2 linked regions of the Homo sapiens genome follow. The gene in region 1 interacts genetically with each later gene. Each region holds a gene or a part of one and is shown on either strand. Other genes may lie near its edges.

Evidence for each region. Genes that interact genetically often act in the same process or in processes that back each other up.
Region 2: changes in KRAS (region 1) and ARPC2 are lethal when combined (synthetic lethality), as found in Homo sapiens cells (2 studies listed by BioGRID, with this or other methods).

What each region holds. Positions count from the first base shown.
Region 1 is NC_000012.12:25,244,276-25,247,929, reverse strand, and holds part of KRAS (GTPase KRas), read left to right. Parts: intron 1-2,534; 5' UTR 2,535-2,545; coding exon 2,546-2,656; intron 2,657-3,654. UniProt on the Homo sapiens protein: Ras proteins bind GDP/GTP and possess intrinsic GTPase activity. Plays an important role in the regulation of cell proliferation.
Region 2 is NC_000002.12:218,234,110-218,237,763, reverse strand, and holds part of ARPC2 (actin-related protein 2/3 complex subunit 2), read right to left. Parts: intron 3,413-3,654; coding exon 3,367-3,412; intron 1-3,366. UniProt on the Homo sapiens protein: Actin-binding component of the Arp2/3 complex, a multiprotein complex that mediates actin polymerization upon stimulation by nucleation-promoting factor (NPF).

The DNA.
Region 1 (3,654 bases):
AGCCCATTACTTGGTAACATGAATAAAATATTTTATGAAAAATAACTATTTTCCAAAACAAAACCAAAACTTAGAAAAGTGGTATTGTTTCACACTTCAGTAAATCTCTTTAATGATGTGGCTTAATAGAAGATATGGATTCTTATATCTGCATCTGCATTCAATCTATTATGATCACACATCTGGAAAACTTGTGAAAGAATGGGAGTTAAAAGGGTAAAGGACATCTTAATGTTATTATGAAAACAGTTTTGACCTCTTGCACACCAGAAAAGTCTTAGTAACCTGAGGGGTTCCTAGACCACATTTTGAGAACTGTTTTAGGCTATGCAAACTGGTTGGGGGGAGGTTGGGGTAGGCAGAGAGCTAGAAGATACATTTTAGTGTAATTCTCCTCATCTATTCCTAATTGCTTTGGCCTACATTTGAAATAAAGCGTGGAGGCAAACGGGATAAGATACATGTTTGTAGTGGTTGTTAACTTCACCCTAGACAAGCAGCCAATAAGTCTAGGTAGAGCAGAGTAAGGCGGGGAACTATGCCGTGACCGTGTGTGATACAATTTTTCTAGCCTGTGGTGCTTTTTGCGGCAGGGCTTAGGAGTAAGGTTAGTATGTTATCATTTGGGAAACCAAATTATTATTTTGGGTCTTCAGTCAATTATGATGCTGTGTATATTTAGTGTTTATCTACAATATATGCACATTCATTAATTTGGAGCTACTCATCCTATAATAAATAGTTGTGCATTTACTCCCATTTTTTTCTGCATTTCTCTCCTTATTTATAATTATGTGTTACATGAGGGAAAGGAGGTGAAATTAAACATTCATATTATTTCAAAAAATTTGAAACAACTAACTAAAAAATATGTTTTATTTTCTGTATGGTGTTTGTTATACAATCTGTCAATATTCATGCACCTCTTGGGAGACAGTGTATGAAAAGCAAAGAGTAACAGTCACATGGATTACTGATTACTGAGATATATTCACTTGCATCTTTTTTTTTTTTTGAGACGGAGTGGCTCTGTCGCCCAGGCTGGAGTGCAGTGGCGTGATCTCGGCTCACTGCAAGCTCCGCCTCCTGGGTTCACGCCATTCTTCTGCCTCAGCCTCCCAAGTAGCTGGGACTACAGGCGCCCGCCACCACGCCCGGCTAATTTTTTTATATTTTTAGTAGAGACGGGGTTTCACCGGGTTAGCCAGGATGGTCTTGATCTCCTGACCTCGTGATCCACCCTCCTCGGCCTCCCAAAGTGCTAGGATTATAGGCGTGAGCCACCGTGCCCGGCTCACTTGCATCTCTTAACAGCTGTTTTCTTACTAAAAACAGTGTTTATCTCTAATCTTTTTGTTTGTTTGTTTGTTTTGAGATGGAGTCTTACTCCGTCACCCAATCTGGAGTGCAGTGGCGTGATCTGGGCTCACTGCAACCTCTGCCTCCCGGGTTCAAGTGATTCTCCTTCCTCAGCCTCCCCAGTAGCTAGGACTACAGGAGAGCGCCACCACGCCTGATTAATTTTTGTATTTTTAGTAGAGAGAGGGTTTCACCATATTGGCCAGGCTGGTCTTGAACTCCTGGCCTCAGGTGATCCACCCGCCTTGGCCTCTGAAAGTGCTGGGATTACAGGCATGAGCCGCCGCACCCGGCTTTCTAATCTTTATCTTTTTTTGTGCAGCGGTGATACAGGATTATGTATTGTACTGAACAGTTAATTCGGAGTTCTCTTGGTTTTTAGCTTTATTTTCCCCAGAGATTTTTTTTTTTTTTTTTTTTTTTGAGACGGAGTCTTGCTCTATCGCCAGGCTGGAGTGCAGTGGCGCCATCTCGGCTCATTGCAACCTCGGACTCCTATTTTCCCCAGAGATATTTCACACATTAAAATGTCGTCAAATATTGTTCTTCTTTGCCTCAGTGTTTAAATTTTTATTTCCCCATGACACAATCCAGCTTTATTTGACACTCATTCTCTCAACTCTCATCTGATTCTTACTGTTAATATTTATCCAAGAGAACTACTGCCATGATGCTTTAAAAGTTTTTCTGTAGCTGTTGCATATTGACTTCTAACACTTAGAGGTGGGGGTCCACTAGGAAAACTGTAACAATAAGAGTGGAGATAGCTGTCAGCAACTTTTGTGAGGGTGTGCTACAGGGTGTAGAGCACTGTGAAGTCTCTACATGAGTGAAGTCATGATATGATCCTTTGAGAGCCTTTAGCCGCCGCAGAACAGCAGTCTGGCTATTTAGATAGAACAACTTGATTTTAAGATAAAAGAACTGTCTATGTAGCATTTATGCATTTTTCTTAAGCGTCGATGGAGGAGTTTGTAAATGAAGTACAGTTCATTACGATACACGTCTGCAGTCAACTGGAATTTTCATGATTGAATTTTGTAAGGTATTTTGAAATAATTTTTCATATAAAGGTGAGTTTGTATTAAAAGGTACTGGTGGAGTATTTGATAGTGTATTAACCTTATGTGTGACATGTTCTAATATAGTCACATTTTCATTATTTTTATTATAAGGCCTGCTGAAAATGACTGAATATAAACTTGTGGTAGTTGGAGCTGGTGGCGTAGGCAAGAGTGCCTTGACGATACAGCTAATTCAGAATCATTTTGTGGACGAATATGATCCAACAATAGAGGTAAATCTTGTTTTAATATGCATATTACTGGTGCAGGACCATTCTTTGATACAGATAAAGGTTTCTCTGACCATTTTCATGAGTACTTATTACAAGATAATTATGCTGAAAGTTAAGTTATCTGAAATGTACCTTGGGTTTCAAGTTATATGTAACCATTAATATGGGAACTTTACTTTCCTTGGGAGTATGTCAGGGTCCATGATGTTCACTCTCTGTGCATTTTGATTGGAAGTGTATTTCAGAGTTTCGTGAGAGGGTAGAAATTTGTATCCTATCTGGACCTAAAAGACAATCTTTTTATTGTAACTTTTATTTTTATGGGTTTCTTGGTATTGTGACATCATATGTAAAGGTTAGATTTAATTGTACTAGTGAAATATAATTGTTTGATGGTTGATTTTTTTAAACTTCATCAGCAGTATTTTCCTATCTTCTTCTCAACATTAGAGAACCTACAACTACCGGATAAATTTTACAAAATGAATTATTTGCCTAAGGTGTGGTTTATATAAAGGTACTATTACCAACTTTACCTTTGCTTTGTTGTCATTTTTAAATTTACTCAAGGAAATACTAGGATTTAAAAAAAAATTCCTTGAGTAAATTTAAATTGTTATCATGTTTTTGAGGATTATTTTCAGATTTTTTTAGTTTAATGAAAATTTACCAAAGTAAAGACCAGCAGCAGAATGATAAGTAAAGACCTGTAAGACACCTTGAAGGTCATGGAGTAGAACTTCCATCCCAAGCAGATGAGGATTTATTTAATCTCAAAGACCTCCAGGAGGGGACATTCCCCAACTGTCCTTGTTAACTCATTTTCAGAACATATTTATTAGCATATTTTACATGTAATTTGGATCTTCATGTTAAATTTAACATCAGTGGAGATGGAAAATAAGCATATCGCCTTGTCTTTGAAATAGCCCTATATTGTTAGATTGTTTCTTAGGCTTCTTTACCCTGGGTTAAGCAGTCCTAATACTTTAGCATTT
Region 2 (3,654 bases), on another chromosome or scaffold:
AAAACCCTGTCTCTACTAAAATCACAAATATTAGCCAGGCATGGTGGCGGGCGCCTGTAATCCTAGCTACTTGGGAGGCTGAGGCAGGAGAATTGCTTGAACCCAGGAGGTGGAGGTTACAGCGAGCTGATATTGCACCACTGCACAACAGAGCGAGACTCCAGCTCCAAAAAAAAAAAACAAAAACAAAAAAAATTGCCTGACTTGTTAATTTCCTCATCTGTTAAAAAAAAAAAAAAATTGGTGGTGGGGGGCAGGTAGGGTGGTCTGGGCACAGTGGCTCAAGCCTGTATTCCCAGCACTTTGGGAGGCCAAGGTGGGTGGATCACCTGAGGTCAGGAGTTCGAGACCTGCCTGGCCAATATGGCAAAACCCCGTCTCTAATAAAAATACAAAATTAGCTGGGTGTGGTGGTACACGCCTGTGGTCCCAGGTACTCCGGAGGCTGAGGCAGGAGAATTGCTTGAACCCGGGAGGTGGAGGTTGTAATGAGCTGAGATCGCGCCACGGCACTCCAGCCTGAGCAACAAGAGTGAAATTCTGTCTCAAAAAAAAAGAAAAAAAGAAAAAGGAGCAGGGCAGGGGGTGCGGAGATAGGGGAGAATGTTGTGAGCATTAAAAGAATGTTCAATACTTAAAGTGTGTGGAACATGACAGGTCATCAATACGGGTGCAGAACATGGACTGAAACCATTGGATGACCTGCCTTTTTACAGCATGTCCACTATGAATTCCCAGAAGCCGGCTGGAACACTTGATTATAGAATCAAATGATTAATAAGTGTCAAACTGCCTAGAGATGTTTTTGCAAGAATATTTCTACATCACTGAGGATCATTTTATATTCTAGGCAACTGACGGGAATAACTTCACCAGAACTGTATGGCTTTCACACTTCTAAGTATCTGAAACCTCATTACTATTTCATTTTTTCCCAAAAGCATTCCTGAGATCTGTATTTTTTTTTTTTTGAGATGGAGTTTTACTCTTATTGCCCAGGCTGGAGTGCAATGGCATGATCTCGGCTCACCACAACATCCGCCTCCCAGGTTCAAGCGATTCTCCTGCCTCAGCCTCCTAGGCAGCTGGGATTACAGGCATGCGCCACCAGGCCTGGCTAATTTTGTACTTTTAGTAGAGACGGGGTTTCTCCATGTTGGTCATGCTGGTCTTGAACTCCTGAATGCAGGTGATCCGCCCGCCCTGGCCTCCGATAGTGCTGGGATTACAGGCATAAGCCACCGCGCCCGGCTGAGGTCTGTGTTTTTTGTTGAGCATGGGCTCTTCGGGAGGATGGGCTAAATCTTTGCTCTAGATAATGCTTAGCACATTTTATTTAATACTGGAGAGGCACTCCAGTATTAAATAATATCAATCATCATTCTATTTTGGGTACTTGAAAACCAAATAAGCACACAGATTACAAGGTTAGATTAAAAAAGAAAAGATTTAGAGCTGAGGTTTGCTAGTTTTAGGAAGCCAAATAAGAGCAAATAAAACTATAGCTAAGGTAAAGTCTGTCTTTAAGTAAGGCTTCTAACATGATGAACAGAATATACTGAGGATGAAGAGAAGTAAAAATCTAGTATAACTTGCTGAGTTTTCCAAACGTGCCTAGATAAACCCATTAAAAAAGAGGAGGAGAGACTCTACGGTCTTTTTTTTTTTTTTCTCGAGACTGAATCTTGCTCTGTCGCCTAGGCTAGAGGGCAGTGGCGCAATCTCAGCTCACTGCAACCTCTGCCTCCTGGGTTCAAGCGATTCTCGTGCTTCAGCCACCTGAGTACCTGGTATTACAGGTGGCTGCCACCATGCCTGGCTAATTTCTGTATTTTTTATAGAGACAGGTATCTCATTATGCTGCCCAGGCTGGTCCTGAACTTCTGAGCTCAAGCAATTCACTCACCTTGGCCTCCCCAAAGTGCTGGGATTACAGGTGTGAGCCACTGCACCTGGTTGAGACACTACTTTCACACACTTTTACATTTCACACTTCTATGAAGACAGGGTCTGCAATCTGGCAATGTCTATGATTTAGTGGGAGGTAGAAGGAGGCCCAGGGACAGAAACATAAACTTTCCATGTCAGGATGTTGGCTGTGACAAGCATGCCCAAGACTTTGGACATGATTTTTCTGTTCTAGATCTGTTTGTTTCTTTCTTTTAATACCTTGATTTTGCCAAAAGCCTACAGTGTTATCTTGGCTTTTATTTCTGTGACACATTCATCCCGCCAATTTGGAGATTAAAAAAAAAAAAGGTGCTGGGTATGGTGGCTCATGCCTGTGATCCCAACTCTCTGGGAGGCGGAGGCTGAGGTGGGTAGATTGCTCAAGGCTAGGAGTTTGAGACCTCCTTACTCTGTTTTGGCAGTATGGGCAGCAGACAGTGAGACTCTGTTTCTACAAAATATTAAAAAAATTAATTGGGTATGGTGGCATGTGCCTGTAGTTCCCAGCTACCGGAGAGGCTAAAGCGGGAGGATTGCTTGAGCCCAAGATTTGGAGGAGGCTGCAGTGAGCTATGACTGTACCACTGCATTCCAGCCTGGGCAACAGAATGAGACTGTCTGAAAAAATAGGTGAGGTGATGAAATAAGCTAGCACAAGTAACTGCTGTTAAGAGTGACAGAGAACTTCCTTCTTAGAAGACTTTTCTAATCAAGGTACCAAAGTTGTAATAGTTGAGTAAAAAATATTATGTTCCAATGGTCTTACTACCTGGTTCTCACTTTGGGGTCCTGCTAAATGCCTCAGAATTTGAGACATGCCACTGAATCACAGGGTAAAAAGGCTGTTCAGTTTTTCCACTTTAAACCTCCTTTTTAAAGCAGTATAACATAGCTGTTCTATTCAAGGATGACACGGTGCCTTTCAATTCCTCTGGCCATGAATGTTGAGACAACCTATTAGAAGACTGGATTAAGAAAGGGTCTGATTTTTATTACTTGAAATCACAAGAATAGTGTGGTGAATATTCCTCTTCTTTCTCCAAATATGTAGTATGCAGAATTACTAAGGGCCGAGGGTGGGAATCAATGTTTGCTCATTCTTTTCAAAGCCATTTTAATCACCATGAACAAACAAATGTGGCCCTCTGGCTGAAAGATTAAGTAAGAGTCATGTGGCCCCATCAAGTAAATGTTAAAAATGTCACACATCAATTTTGTACCTCTACTGTGTTCCATATTGGACAAAGCAAAGCCCCTTAAAAGCTATTTTTATGGACGGAGTTGAAATTAGGAATGGGCTCATGCAGAAATATTTGTAATAATATTTAAACGAAATCCTTTGGGTAAAAAAAGCATAATATAAAAAGGACACCTCTCTTCCCATGTCATTCCATAGTTGCTCACATGACTACATACCTGATTCTGGATTTACCAAGAAACTCCCGTACACCCTCTTTAATAACTAGAAAATAAAAACAAAACAAAACCAAATACGTTAATCCAAAGGCCATGATAATTTCATTATTTTTAAAGTACTGCACTTGCCAAGCTCTTCCTAAGTTGGCATTCTTCCTAACTTTCATTTGGTGGATGGGAAAGTAGAGACAGAGGGGAAGTGGATTTAGTCACCAAACAAGTCACAAAACTGAGATGAGTATCTTTTTATGCCTGGGACAGAGTGCAATGGCGCGATCTCGGCTCACC